4 linked regions of the Homo sapiens genome follow. The protein of the gene in region 3 purifies or fractionates together with the protein of the main gene of each other region. This does not show direct contact. Each region holds a gene or a part of one and is shown on either strand. Other genes may lie near its edges.

Region 1 (3,591 bases), on a different chromosome or scaffold from region 3:
TCTCTATTTTTATGTATTTCTATTTTCTTACCTCTCATATTTTTTATCTCTCTTTCTATATCTTAAAAACCATGAGTTTGTACTGATGCCTCTGATTCCAGTTTAGCACTACAGGGTTTATTCTAGCCTTCCCAGTTTTCATATCCATAACTTCTCTATGAGAAACAGGGCTTCGTGTTATTCACACTATCTTTACCTGTTCTCAGATTGAACAAGTAAAGATACTCAAAAGAACAATTCATATTGTAGTTTCAGAATTGCTAATCCACACTGCAGTTTAAAAAATTTTTTTAATCTACTTCTTGAGTTTTAGAATTTATCATCTTCAAGAGCAAGAATTGTTATATGTTATATGTTATATTAATACCTAGCAATGGTTTCTCTTGTCATTTTTAATTTCTCAATTATTTCAATGAATTAGGCTTATTTTCTGTTAATTGGGACGACATGTATCTTCAAAGTGAGAAAAATCAAAATGGTACTCAAATAAGAAAATGGATCTATCCTAAACTAATTTAGATAGTGGGAGCATTGGTTGGTTTCTTTTGGAAACAACTTGGTTTTTGTTGTTGTTGTTTTAAGAGTTTGCGAGACTGTTTTCTTGTTCTTCAGAGTTTTAAACCTTTCAAGAAAAAAGTCTTTCTTCAGAGCCAAGCTTTACAAAGGTCCTAAAGATTTCACCTGTCTTTGGTGCAGAAACAGAGGACAATTTCCCATATGTTTATAGAATCTTTTCTTATTACATTTTTTGCAGACAGGTTATGAACGATCCTAAAAGAGAGAGAAAAACATCTCTAGAAGTGTATATTTTGCTTATTTCTCCTTCTCTAGTTTTTGTCCTGAAATTTCCCATGAATGGATGGGTCAGTGAGGTGAAAAAGATATGAAAAGATATGAAAAAGAATTAACTTAGATTCTAAAAGATGTATGACTTAGAACATCTGTACTTCTATTGACTGAGTAAACTTGTTCACCATTTTCTGCTGGTAGGTTCTACCTGTATTCACTCAAAACCAAGATGTATGTGAATTGTTATCCAGGGATGTGTGATATTTGATTCAGAAGGGACCTCACTCCTCAGTAATGGATTCTGATATATTGGCTCACTTTGGGTGGGATAGCTGCCTTAGGGGCATACTCAGGCTAGGCATTTTACAGGAATGTTGTTGAAACCATTAAGACTTGCAAACTTAAAAACCATGAGCTTGTGCTGATGAATTCAACACTGAATGTGTTGAATTCACCTTTGGGTGAATTGGTGGTTCTTTAGATTCCTTTAAACTTGTAGATTCTGTTTTTCTGGTACTGAAATTAAAGGGAGTGATTGGGACCTTGGCAGTAGCTTCAGGATTGGTGGTCCTAGAGACATTAAGAGAAGAAAGCAGAAGAGGACTCAGGCCCTGATGGACGTCCTGATGATCAAAAGTGAGGGATTAGAGGCCTTTGGGACTAGTATGTGTCTAACAGAACAGTAATAGCATTGTGTCTCATGGAGGTCCTTTTTTTCTCACTTCATTTATTCTCATTTAACTATATTAAATTATAGTTAACTAACTTTATTATCCATTAGATGAGGTGAAACAATCACTGGCAGTAGATGGAAAGGACAGAAAGTTCTACACCAGTGTAGCTCATGTGGAGGTCCTCTTGCCACAGTGGCAGTGATGAGACCATACACGGATACGTGATGCCGCTGCTGCTCCCTTGATTCTGATCTGGATCTGGTTGCAGATTCTTATAGGAGATCTCCCTGCAGCCCACCCTAAAGACCCCAGGCCCCAGCTCTCCCACTACCCAGCAGCCCAACCTCTGTGTGCTGCCCGGAGTTGGGAATGGAGCATCTTTGCCTCACTGTCTGAATTTGTACAAGTTGTAGAACTGCAGTTGCTAACTTAGGTTGATAAAGCCTTGATTTAGATTAGATTTTGATTACCCGGAGGACTCCTCTTACCTACTCTCATAGCAGCAGATTGGCCAGAGTGTTGGTGATTTCCTTTCAGGTAGGCGGTAAGAGGCCAGGGATGCACATTCTCATGCCTCGATTGCTTACCTTGCATGCCCCAGAGTCAGTTCCAGCTGGGCTTTGGGACAGAGCATAGGGCAGGCCCCACTGCTCTGGCTTTATGCAAATGGCACATCAGAAGTACAGAAAACTGAATTTAGAAAATGGATTGAGAAACATGAAAAAAGTATTTGGTGAGTTCAGAATAAAGAGATGTGAAGTATTGATTTCTAGTTAGGGAGCATTTCCAGACCAAATGCGTAAATCCAAGGGTTGCACATCACCAAACTCCCAGGATAAATCACATGAAAATAGCTTTTTTTATGTGTTAGAGGAGCAATTTTCTGTTTCTTCACCATATTGTGCAACTTTTGCTAAGTACTCAGTCACAAAGTGACCCAGAATTCAATGTTTCTCTGAAAAAAGTTAAAGCCAAATGATTCATAGAAAGGTACAACTATTTAAGCTTTTCTAATTCCCATAGTGCCAACTTGGCAACTAGTCCATCCAGAATAATGTTTTTTAATACTAGGGGGGAATATCTTCCAAAGAGGAACTATGGGGTAGAAACAAAACCTCTAACAGGCTTGTAAGTCATTGGTGAGAAGACAAAGATGCAACTGGGACAATGAAAAAGTTGCTAAGTAGTACCCAGAAAAGTTAGGCCAGGTGTTGTGGCTCACACCTGTAATCCCAGCACTTTGGGAGGCCGAGGCGGGCGGATCACCTGAGGTTGGGAATTGGAGACCAGCCTGACCAGCATGGAGAAACCTCGTCTCTACTAAAAATACAAAATTAGCCAGGTGTGCTGGTGCGTGCCTGTAATCCCAGCTACTTGGGACGCTGAGGCAGGAGAATTGCTTGAACCCGGGAGGCGGAGGTTGCAGTGAGCCAAGATCCTGCCATTGCACTCCAGCCTGGGCAACAAGAGTGAGACTCCATCTCAAAAAAAAAAAAAAAAAGAAAAGAAGCAGAACTAGGGGAAGAAAGGTCAATACCAACAAGAGATACAATATTTACTATAAATGCAGAGAAGGCAAGAGTTCTTTGTAAAGCTGCAATCTCAGTATCCCTTGAAATGTGAAATACTCAAATTATCGACATTTGCCAAATGATAACATTTTTTAGCCAGTAATTCAAGTTTGCTAAGGAATCAACCCTCAGTATGTTACTTAGCTTGCCCAGAGTGATTCAGAAGGCATGTAAAACTGGAGAACTCTAACAAATAAGGCAGATGGTTTCATGTTTCCCTCTTTTCTGGCTGGAGATAACCTTTTCAGTTTGTGTTTGCATTGCTTACTGTTAACTATCTCCAAGTAGCTGTTACTGGAAGGGGAGCTGCATCCTATGTGGTCAGAGCCACAGTTGAGTACGTGCAGTATAATTTGTTGTGACTTCTGCTCAACTATTAACTTGGGCACGTAAGCAAACATTCCTACATTAAGCACGATATGGATATGTTCAGTCTTCTACTGGTTATTGTAACTGATATTTAGATGGCCTTTTCCCATTTCTGAATTAATGTCTTTGCCTCATAGGTGAAATAGTTTGCTCTAATGTAGAGGAAGGCAGAAAAGGAAAATGAAGAC
Region 2 (3,591 bases), on a different chromosome or scaffold from region 3:
AGCAATAACAGTGAACGAGACATGATCCTTGCCTTCATAGTCTAACCTTATCTATAATTTAGAGCATCCACATTTAGGTCTTCCTTTGGGCAGTTGCCATTGAGATACTGCAGAAGGTATTCTATGTTTAGGCCCTAGGTTTGTGGAGAAATATTTGGTGTGACTAGCATTGTGTTTACTAGGGAAGAGTGAAAATGACAATGAATGGAAATCATGCCAACTATCCACTCCCTCAAAAAACCCCTACAAAGCAGCTGTCACCTTACACCCTTTTGTCTCCTTTCTTCTCATTATTTTGCTGTGTATAGTTAGTGTCATAGGCTGTTTGGGAAAGTGTTTTTAGGAGCCTTAATGACAAATGGGAACAATTCTAGCTTTGTGAGAAACATTAAGAAAGTGAAGTCCATCAGTGTTTTCCAGGTGTTTCCAGGGAGTCTTTAAGACCATGTTCAGGCCACTTTTTGGGAAAACCTGCTCTGGTTTTGCCTTTTTTCCCCAACTCCCTAATCCCTGAGCTAAGTTAGATTTTCTTCCTAGGTGTTGCCATAATAACCTGTGGTGACTATATTGTGTGATAAGCTCTGTATTTGATTCACCTGCTAGAGATAGGCTTGAGACTGTTTTTCCAGCTTTTATGCCTGGGTTAGTATAGTGTCTGCTGCATGGGAGATGCTCAATAAATGTCACATGGTGGCAGCAAAGGTAAAGTTGCAACTCACTTACACCATTGTAAAGATCCAAAGAAAGAGTTAAGGAGAAAAGAAAAATCCTAGGAACTACATGAGAAATCGGCATCTTCCCTTTATGTGGAAAAAAAAAATTTTTTTGGCCAGGCATGGTGGCTCACACCTGTAATCTCAACACTTTGGGAGGCTGAAAGCAGGTGGATCACTTGAGTCCATGAGCTGGAGACCAGCCTGGGCAACATAGCGAGACCCTGTTGTACAGAAACTAACTGGGCGTGGCAGTGAGCGCTTGTAGTCCCAGCTACTCCAGAGGTTGAGGTGGTTGGATTGCTTGAGCCTGGGAGGTGGAGGGTGCAGTGAGCCAAGATGGCACCACTGTACTCCAGCCTGGGCTACAGGAAACCCTGTCTCAAAAAACAACAATTGATGTATTCTTTGGCTACACTACTAAATTACATTGACTATTTTATCCATTTATCTTAGGTAATATTAAGTTAGGTGAATATATAACTTCCCTTTTTTGTTTATCGTAAAATGTATCAACATAAAACTTTTTTTCCCCAACTTTTAAGTTCAGGGGTACGTGTGCAGGATGTGCAGGTTTGTTACATAGGTAAACGTTTGCCATGGTGGCTTACTGCACAGATCATCCCATCACCTAGGTATTAATCCCAGCATCCACTAGCTATTCTTCCTGATCCTCTTCCTCCTCCCACCCCCACCCTCCGACAGGCCCCAGTGTGTGTTGTTCCCCGCAACATGTGTCCATGTGTTCTCATCATTTAGCTCCCACTTATAAGTGAGAACATGTGGTATTTGGTTTTCTTTTCCTGCATTAGTTTGCTAAGGATAATGGCCTCCAGCTCCATCCATCTCTCTGCAAAGGACGTGATCTTGTTCCTTTTCATGGCTGCACAGTATTCCATGGTCTGTATGTACCACATTTTATCCAGTCTATCATTGATGGGCATTTAGGTTGATTCCATGTCTTTGCTCTTGTGAATAGTGCTTCAGTGAACATACACATGCATGTGTCTTTATAGTAGAATGATTTATATTCCTTTGGTTATATACCCAGTAATGAGATTGCTAGGTAAAAGGGTATTTCTGCCTCTAGGTCTTTGAGGAATCACCACACTGTCTTCCACAATGGTTGAACTAATTTACACTCCCACCAACAGTGTAAAAGCGTTCCTTTTTCTCCACAACCTTGCCAGCAGCTGTCATAACATAAAACTTACCATTCTAACCATTTTTAACTGTACAGTTCAGTGACATTAGGTACATTTGCATTGTTGTCACCACTATCTATCTTTAGAACTTTTTCATCTTCCCAAACTGAAACTCCATACCCATTGAACGATTACTCCCCAATTTCCCACCCTCTAGCTTCTGATAACCACTATTCTACTTTGTCCCTGTAAATAGGACTATTCTAGGTAACTCATTAAGTGGAATCATACAATAAATGTTCTTTCATGACTTTTTTCATTTAGCATACTGTCTCCAAGGTTCAACCATGTAGTATATTATAAGAATTTTCTAAGGCTGAATAATACTCCATGTATATACCACATTTTGTTTATCCATTCATCTGCTGGTGGGCATTTGCATTGTTTCCACCTTTTGGTTATTGTGAGTAATCCTGTTTTGAACATGTGTGTACAAATCTCTCTTCAAGTCCCTGCTTTCAGTTCTTTTGAGTATGTACCTAAACGTGGAATTGCTGGATCATGTGGTAACTCTGTTTAATTTATTGAGGGATTGCCATACTGTTATCTGTAACAACTACATCATTTTACATTCCCACCAGGAATGCACAAGGATTCCAGTTTCTCCACATTCAAGCTAACACTTATGATTATCTGGTTTTGTTTTGTTTTGTTTTGTTTTTTGATAATAGCAATCCAACTAGGTGTGAAGTGCTGTTAGTGGTTTTGATTTGCATTTCCTAATAATTAGTGATGCTGAACAAACATCTTTTTCATGTTTTATGATATTTTTTGGGCATTTGTGTGTATCTTCTTTGGAGAAATGTCTATTCAAATCCTTTGCCCATTTTTATAATTAGGTTTTTTGGTTGTTATCCAGTTGTATAAGTTATTTATATAATCTAGCTATTTACCCCTTATCAGATATGATTATAAATACTTTCATCCATTCTGCGGGTTGCCCTTTTACTCTGTTGATAGCATCTTTTGTTAAACAAAAGTTTTTAATTTTGTTAAAGTCCCATTTCTCTTTTCTTTTTCTTTTTCTTTTTTTTTTTTTTTTTTGCAGGGTAGGGGAAGTTCTGCTTTTGGTATCGTATCCCTGTTACTTCTTCTATTGTGATACCTGTTGGGTTTAGTATCAGTATTATGCTGATCTTATAAAATGAATTTGGAAGCTTTCCATCTTTCTCTATGCTCTGGAAATATTTTAATAGTATAGAATTTTTCCAGTTTTTAAAAAACAAGTTGATATAATATAGTCCTGAGATTGAAGTGATTTTAGGTGTATGAGAGGATGATGGGAAAGGGCAGATCATAAAACTGTTAAAAGGGAAACAAAATTAGAAGATACTAGAGGAAAGGTACTGCTTTCTACACTGTTGCAAGTATAATACTGTATGCAGCATATCCACTTATCTATTACCTTCTAACCAAAAGTTCTGAGCATCTTGGAGAGGTGTAGGGGCGTGTGTGTGGTATGTGGTTGGTTTGTCAGGGATGTTTTTCTGAAAACACCTGGTAGGGAAAACAGGATTCTCTTATTAAAAATCTTTGTAGGATGTATCCATTCTAGAAAGCAAGAAACAAGAACATCTATAATTGTTCACATCAGAAGTGGTTAAGAGTAAGGAGAAAAATTTGGTTTTAAATGTCATTCATTATCCCTCCACTTAACTTTTTCATTTTTGTAT
Region 3 (4,266 bases):
GTTAGTTTACATTTTTGTGTTTCAGAAAGAACTAAAGGTCTCACAATCCTCCAAAGTCCACATGTGTAGGCCAAGCCCCTCAAGGCAATTAAAGGAATAGGAAAATGTACCCACAGCTGATTTCAGCATGAAAGCACGTGGTGTCCAGAGTCTTTTAAATCCTTAAAGCAAAACACCTGGATTCTGTTCCAGGCCGCCCCGCTCCCCACCCAGCTCCAAGCACCTGTTTCTATCTGACCAGCCCTCCGACTTTCTACCCCTCCCCGCTCAGAAGAGGCAAGAATTTTTAAATTCTGATTTTGTTTGTATAAAGATAGTAAGAAACATTCCGTGAACCAGGAATCATAAGGCTGCACCCCTGTGAGATCTCCCCCAAGAAAGTCCCTTCCATTCTCAGAGAATAAAATCGAAACACCAAATGGATGGAAACACAGTAACCACACCGTCCCTGGCAGGGCCGCCCCTGGCTGTACCTGAATTTCCTGTGTGTGGACTGTACCGGATCTACGGAGTCTGTGGCTCTTTCAGCTCCTTCTTCATCATCCGGTGCAGCCTTTGTGCTCTGGAGACCCTCAAATCAGTACGGGGGGCGAGCGCTGTGGCTCACGCCTGTAATTCCAGCAGTTTGGGAAGCCCAGGCGGGCAGATAACTTGAAGTCAGGAGTTCTAGCCCAGCCTAGCCAACGTGGTGAAACCCCGTCTCTACTAAAAATACAAAAAATTAGCCGGGCGTGGTGGCGGGCGCCTGTAGTCCCAGCTACTCGCGAGGCTGAGGCAGGAGAATCGCTTGAACCCGGGAGGCAGAGGTTGCAGTGAGCCGAGATCCCCCACTGCACTCCAGCCTGGGCGACAGAGCAAGACTCCGTCTCAAAAACAAAAACAAACAAAATCAGGAAGGGGACTTTGAAGCTCCTTAATACTGAGGCTTGGAGGGGCCCTAGCATGGGAGTTGGGCAACCCAGCGCTTCCCCTTTGAGGAGTGGCTCTAGAAATCGCCTTCCACAGTCCACAGGGAAGGGCTTTAGCCACGATCCAGGACTGAGTCCTCCATAGGGTGTGGGTGAGCCCCACGGCTGGGCCCAGCCCCCCGAAGACCACCGGGTAGCCTCGCTCCCGCCTCCCACCCCAGCCTCGCCCTCCAGCCCCGCCACGGGAGGGGCCGCCTGAAGGAGACCCGCACCTGGGCCTGGGCTCCTGGCTGGGGGGAGCGGAGCAGGCGGCGCCCAGGCCCGGGTCCTCCCCGCCCTCGCAGCTGCCCCAGCCGAGCCTCCCGGGCCGGCCTCGCCCTGGGGGTGGGGGTGGGGGTGAGGGGGCGCAGCCTCGGGCTACGGCTCCCCCGGCCCGGCCCGGCCCGTGCGGGCTGCACACCTGCCCGCCCGGCGAGGCTTCATTAGGCCGCGCCTGTGCATCACGGGCCGGCCGCGGCGGCGGGAGTCCAGGCCATGGAACCCACAGAGAATCCCTGCCAGGGACCGCTGGGTGAGTGTGGAGACCCCGTCGTGCGAGGGGGTCAGGCTTTGGGGGTTCGGGGAGGGGGGGAGGCCTGTGATCACCAGGTCAGCGTTAGCCGACCTAAGAGCTTCAGTAGGCCGAGGGCCGGGTGGAGTCGGGTGGGGTAGGGTGGGAGGAGGCCGACCTCACTGCCCCCTGTGCTTTGGGATTGCAACCCCCCTCCCCGCTCCCCCGCGCCCCCTGCCCGCCTCCAGTCTCCCAGCGCGCAGGGGAGAGAACCCTGGGAGCCCCAGGACCCTTCTAGTCTTAGGTCTGACACCCGTCCCCTTCTTACTAGCGCACATCACTCCCATAGGACACGTGCTTACGGAGCACCCACAGTGCTGGGTACCAGGCTTTTTGCTACAGTACAAGCTCTCCTAAAATGCTGTAAAACAAATTTGTCCCTGCTTCCCCACACCACCAGCCAGCTTTGTCCCTTCACTCCATAGAGGCCTGCTCACCCTCTTCACCAGCCCAGACCCTCTCATGCAAGTCGGGTCCAGCCTGTGTCCTAGGAAAGGACTTGGAACAGCACCCTTGACCATGACCTTTTTCCTTGACACTCTGTTACAAAGTCATTCCTAGGGTCAGGCGCAGTGGCTCAAGTCTGTAATCCCAGCACGTTGGGAGGGCGAGGCTGGTGGACCACCTGAGGTCAGGAGTTGGAGACCAGCCTGGCCAACATGGCAAAACCCCATCTCTACTAAAAATACAAAAATTAGCTGGGTGTGGTGGCACACACCTGTAATCCCAGCTACTTGGGAGGCAGAGGCACGAGAATCGCTTGAACCCAGGGGGCCAAGGTTGCAGTGAGCCAGAATTGCACCATGTCACTGCAGCCTGGGCGACGGAGCGAGACTCCATCTCAAAAAAAAAAAAAAAAAAAAAAAAAATGTTATTCCTTAAGACCTATCTCATGCAATTTTCATTAAAGTAACAGTAGCTCTTAGTCGTTACTTAGCATTCATTACAAATGTTCCAATTTAGTTGGAAATGATAAAGCAGCTCCCTGAGCTGAGGGTTCTTGGAGTTATGAGTCAGTTGGGAGGTGAAAGTGGGGGGATCATTTGATGGCCCCAGGAAGGACTCCATGTGGTGATTAAGTACACAGAGTACGTGCTCAGGGTGCTGTGTGATCTTGGACATATTACTCTGCTGTCTCATCCTCATTTCTTCATCTGTTAGAAGGGAATATTAGCAGTGCCGTTCTTGCAGAGATTAAATATGCACTGTGCTAATCTTTGAAAGGTGCTTAGCGCCATGCCTGGAACATGATAAGCTCCCAATGCATCAGTCAGCTCACAGAAAGGAAGGCAAGCTTTAGGGATGAGTGGTAGGGTTTTTAGTTCTAGCTGGGTCCCAGTTTCCTTACTCGAAAGAGAGGTTTACCAGAGAGTGAGATCCTGCTTTGCAGGGAGGGGGAGGAAGTGGATGTGCTGGATGGTAGTGGGGTGGGGGGTGCGGGCGGGGGGGCATGTATGGAGCTGAGGAGAGTTGGCAGAGACAGAGTTCCATGGTTCTCCCTGTTATCTCTTTTGATGCTCTTGCCTCGGCTGCTGGAGACAATCGAATCCTTTCTTGTCCCTTCTCCAAGCAATAATGCCTGTTGTGCAGCAGAAACAGCATCCCGCCTTGGGAGAAGCAGAATCTCTGTCAATCTGTTTCTCTTTGTCTTCCTGGTCCATCCGCAGCCCCAACATGATCCCTTAGAGATACCTGAACAGTCCCTCAAACTCATACCCCTGGTGTCTGGGAAAAGGGAACTCACAAGGGGTGAGTACCCCCAAATTAGGAGATACCATGAGCTAACGCCGTCTCAGAATTGCATAAATTTGTCTACATTTTTCAAAGAAGTTGGGTTATCTGATTTAATCCTCACAATAGTCAAGCTAGGAAGGTAAGTGTGGAATTATTACCCCATTTGATAGGTAGACAAATTAAAGCTTAAGATCAAACCGTTTGCAAAGCAGGAAGCAGCACTTCCTCTTGGTCCAGTTCTTCCTTCTCCCTGGTGCTAAGGTCAGTGGATGTTGGCTCCCCACAGGCCAGAAAGCTGGAGAGAAGCCCCTGGCTGCAGGACCCGGGGAGGAGGAACTGCTCCGGGGCTCAGCCCCTCATGCTCAGGACACTCAGAGTGAGGAACTGCCACCCTCCTGCACCATCTCAGGAGAGAAGAAGCCGCCAGCAGTCTCTGGAGAAGCCACCGGGGCTGATGCTGGGAGACTGTGCCCGCCCCCCCGCTCCAGGGCTCCCCACAAAGACAGAACTCTAGCCCGCTCCAGGCCCCAGACTCAGGGGGAAGATTGTTCCCTCCCAGTGGGAGAGGTGAAGATAGGAAAGAGGTCCTATTCTCCAGCCCCCGGGAAGCAGAAAAAGCCTAATGCCATGGGTCTGGCCCCAACATCATCTCCGGGTGCCCCTAACTCAGCCCGTGCCACACACAACCCAGTGCCCTGTGGGTCAGGCCGGGGGCCCTGCCACCTGGCCAATCTCCTCAGTACATTGGCGCAGAGCAACCAAAACAGAGACCACAAGCAGGGGCCCCCGGAAGTGACCTGCCAAATTAGGAAAAAGACACGAACCCTATACCGCTCAGGTAAGTCCCTAAAGAGAGGAAACCGAAGAGATCTGGGGTCATCCTGGGGAAAGGTGGGGCTGTGTGAAGAATCTACCCCCAGGAGACCTGAGGGATGGGGTTAGTTTGTATGTCACTTCGTCCCGGATTCTCTCTTGGGCCGCGGTAGTGCAACTATCTCTGACCCTCAGAGGGAA
Region 4 (3,591 bases), on a different chromosome or scaffold from region 3:
CTCTACTAAAAATACCAAAAAAAAAAAAAAATTAGCCGGGCATAGTGGTGGGCGCCTGTAGTCCCAGCTACTCGGGAGACTGAGGCAGGAAAATGGCGTGAATCCGGGAGGCGGAGCTTGCAGTGAGCCGAGATTGCATCACTGCACTCCAGCCTGTGGAGACTGGACTTTTTCTGAGACTCCGTCTCAAAAAAAAAAAGCGAAAACTTAGCTTCTTTTAAGGAAAACCCAAACACAAGTGGAAGGGTATTTTCAATCTCTTGACGTGAAGGAGCAGTATTTGAAGGCTAGATTCTCCATCAGGTAATTTATTTGACTGGCTGTTCATATCACCTTGAAAGAATGGAGAGAGAAGTTCTTTTTGAGTGAAAGCCTTTGGTATTGAAGCTGGAGTGAAAGAATATTGACATAAATATTACAGTGATTTTTCTCTAAAATAATTCTTAAATCATGTAATCTCAAACAGCCAGAAAACTAAAATAAAACCATCAGACAAACTTTTTGTCCCCATGAGCATAGGAAAACCAGAACTAGCTTATTTTAAAACTAATCTCCCACGAACTGTCATATTATTCTCTCTGGTGTAAACAAAAGAAAATCAGTTGTAAGGTAGCAAGATAAAACGGGAAATTAGAATCAATAGTACTTTAGGCCAGAACATGAACAGCCACTAAGATTTGTCATGTTTTGGTTATTAAAAATAATTCAGCAGATCTCTAGAAGAATATGGAAAAAGCTGAAACAGTGGTTGCCTCTGGGGAGAGGAATTCTATGGCTAAATGATGAAGTATATGAGTGAGAAATTACTTCTTTTGCTATGTGCACGTATTATCTATTCAAAATACTCATTGTAATTTTTACTTAAAATATTCAGAAACATCCCTAAAATGTAAACATCATAAAGCTTTAATTATTGACACTAACAAAGCAGTGATGTGGAAGAATAATTCACAGTAATATTAATCACATCAGTAAGTATTGATTAGGCACTTTAACATCAGTTAATGGCCGGGCGTGGTGGCTCACCTCTGTAATCTGAGCACTTTGGGAGGCCAAGGTGGGCAGATCGCCTGAGCTCAGGAGTTCGAGACCAGCCTGGGTGACATGGTGAAATCCTGTCTCTACAAAAAAATACAAAAAATTAGCCAGGCATGGTGGCATGCACCTGCGGCCCCAGCTACTTGGGAGGCTGAGGTGGGAGGATCACTTGAGCCTGGGAGGTCAAGGCTGCAGTGAGCTGAGATCGCACCACTGCTCTCCAGCCTGGGTGACAGAGGGAGACCCTGTCTCAAAAAAAGAAAGAAAAAAAAATCAGTTAATGCTTTTTCCTCTTCAGTATAGGGTTCTAAAATGATTCCCTGTTTTTTGAAATGATAGAAGAGGGAGATAGAAAAATAAGTCACAGGACAGGAGTCTTCCTAGAAATACTGAAAAATACCTATTATTTTGTTATTTCATGAAGTCTCAAGCTAAGTTTAAAACTTCAACAACAACAAAATAGGCCTGGAAACCTTGGAATCCTAAGTCCAGCCCACAGACTTCCACTGAAACCCACTCTGCCTACTGAGCATGCCCAGTTAGCTCCTCATCACCAGCAGAGAGTTCTATCACAGACTTGAAAATATGATGAGACTGCAACAGTAGTGAGTTTAGACTGTGCTTGGTATTGAAGGGAGAAAAAAAATAGCATAAAGGAAAAGTAGATGACACTGAAAGAAAAGTCTCCCCAAACCAACCATGACCCTAAAGAGCCAGACCCTCGGCATGGAGGCTTCGCTATGTCTAGGGAAGTGAGGTGGGTGTTTAGGGTCCAGAAGCCTAGAAAATGTCATTAATTAAAAGGAAAAAGTAACAGGACAAGTGGGCAAGCAGGCAGGCCTCCATGCCTCCTTTTTTCTTTCTTTTTTTACTCCCAGCAAATTCGTGAATATTTGTGGAGGAGGAATTAAAACACTAGAAGCATTAGCCAATCAGAGCTTCCAAAAGGTCCACCTAAACTTAATACCTTAAAAGCATCAATGTGGCCGGGCGCGATGGCTCACGCCTGTAATCCCAGCACTTTGGGAGGCCAAGGCGGGCGGATCATGAGGTCAGGAGATCGAAACCATCCTGGCTAACACGGTGAAACCCCGTCTCTACTAAAAAATAAAAAAAATTAGCCGGGCGTGGTGGCGGGCACCTGTAGTCCCAGCTACTTGGGAGGCTGAGGCAGGAGAATGGCGTGAACCTGGAAGGCGGAGCTTGCAGTGAGCCGAGATCGTGCCACTGCACTCCAGCCTGGGCAACAGAGTGAGACTCTTGTCTCAAAAAAAAAAAAAATGCATCAATGTTATATCAGATGATGTAGGATTTTTCCGATTATAATTGTATTTACTGGCTAGGCCTGGGTTCACACCTGTAAAATCCCAACACTTGGGAGGCTAAGGTGGAAGGCTTACTTGAGGCCAAGAGTTAAGACCAGTCTGGGCAACATAGCAAGACCCTATCTCTACAAAAAGATTTTAAAATTAGTTGGGTGTGGTGGTGTTCACTTATAGTCCCAGCTACTCGGGAGGCTGAAGTGGGAGATTCCTTAAGCCCAGGAGTTCGAGGCTGCAGTGAGCCATGATCACACCACTGCCCTGTAGCCTGGGTGGTAGTGAGATCCTGTCTCAATAGTAATAATAATTGTATATACAAATAAACGTGTCCTTAATTTTTTTTTTTTTTTTTTAGCTTTCAGGAAACAGCCTTTTTTCATCACAGTGTGCTAAAAACACTTAGTTTTCTTGCTAATCAAAATAATTTTTTTTTTTTTTGAGACAGTTTCACTCTTGTCACCCTGGCTGGAGTGCAATGGTGCGGCCTCAGCTCACTGCAAACTCCGCCTCCTGGGTTCAAGCAATTCTCCTGCCTCAGCCTCCCGAATAGCTGGGATTACAGGCATGCACCACCACACCTGGCTAATTTTGTATTTTTAGTCGAGACAGGGTTTCACCACATTGGCCAGGCTGGTCTCGAACTCCTGACTTCAAGTGATCCGCCCGCCTCGGCCTCCCAAAGTGCTGGGATTATAGGCATGAGCCACCGCACCTGGCCTCAAAATAATTTTTAAAGTCAGTAGAACTTCCCATTTTTGAAGAAGAAATCTCATTTTCTTGAATGCTCACTTTTAGTCTTTAACACAATGTGTAATCTTTTGGGTAAGAAAACAGGAAACATTTATTTCTTAATATTTTAAGATATTTGAACAGCTTTATCTTTTATTTCCCAAGTGCCATATGAAGCATGTTATTATGGTAAATGTTAGTATAATGTATAATTTGCTATTATCATTTTAGTTGTGGTGGTTGTGATGTTTAATTGAGTGGGATGGCTTTTTTCCAGAATGGAATCACTAGTTCCCCTTGTACAGAGTTTGAAAAAACGGATGGAAGTACCAGACTATGAAATGGTAAATATTTTATATTAATGTGTAAAATTGACCCTTTGTAAAGACAATTTTCTGGGTAGAAGAATTTCCTTTTTGTTAAAGTGGTTCGTTTTTGTTTGTGTTCCTGTGAAGTCTGAAACAATTATTAAGAAAAGAAATGAGTGAAAAAAATACATACG

What was found.
Region 1: the proteins of NOBOX (region 3) and DHX32 purify together in Homo sapiens (affinity purification with mass spectrometry; one large-scale study listed by BioGRID and IntAct). This does not show direct contact.
Region 2: the proteins of NOBOX (region 3) and CCNJ purify together in Homo sapiens (affinity purification with mass spectrometry; one large-scale study listed by BioGRID and IntAct). This does not show direct contact.
Region 4: the proteins of NOBOX (region 3) and C5orf22 purify together in Homo sapiens (affinity purification with mass spectrometry; one large-scale study listed by BioGRID and IntAct). This does not show direct contact.

The regions. Positions count from the first base shown.
Region 1 is NC_000010.11:125,871,236-125,874,826, reverse strand, and holds part of DHX32 (putative pre-mRNA-splicing factor ATP-dependent RNA helicase DHX32), read left to right. Parts: intron 1-3,591.
Region 2 is NC_000010.11:96,046,538-96,050,128, forward strand, and holds part of CCNJ (cyclin-J), read left to right. Parts: intron 1-3,591.
Region 3 is NC_000007.14:144,400,870-144,405,135, reverse strand, and holds the start of NOBOX (homeobox protein NOBOX), read left to right. Parts: upstream 1-1,442; coding exon 1,443-1,479; intron 1,480-3,185; coding exon of another isoform or gene 3,186-3,267; intron 3,268-3,538; coding exon 3,539-4,090; intron 4,091-4,266. UniProt on the Homo sapiens protein: Transcription factor which may play a role in oogenesis. Binds preferentially to the DNA sequences 5'-TAATTG-3', 5'-TAGTTG-3' and 5'-TAATTA-3'.
Region 4 is NC_000005.10:31,542,280-31,545,870, forward strand, and holds part of C5orf22 (UPF0489 protein C5orf22), read left to right. Parts: intron 1-3,366; coding exon 3,367-3,433; intron 3,434-3,591.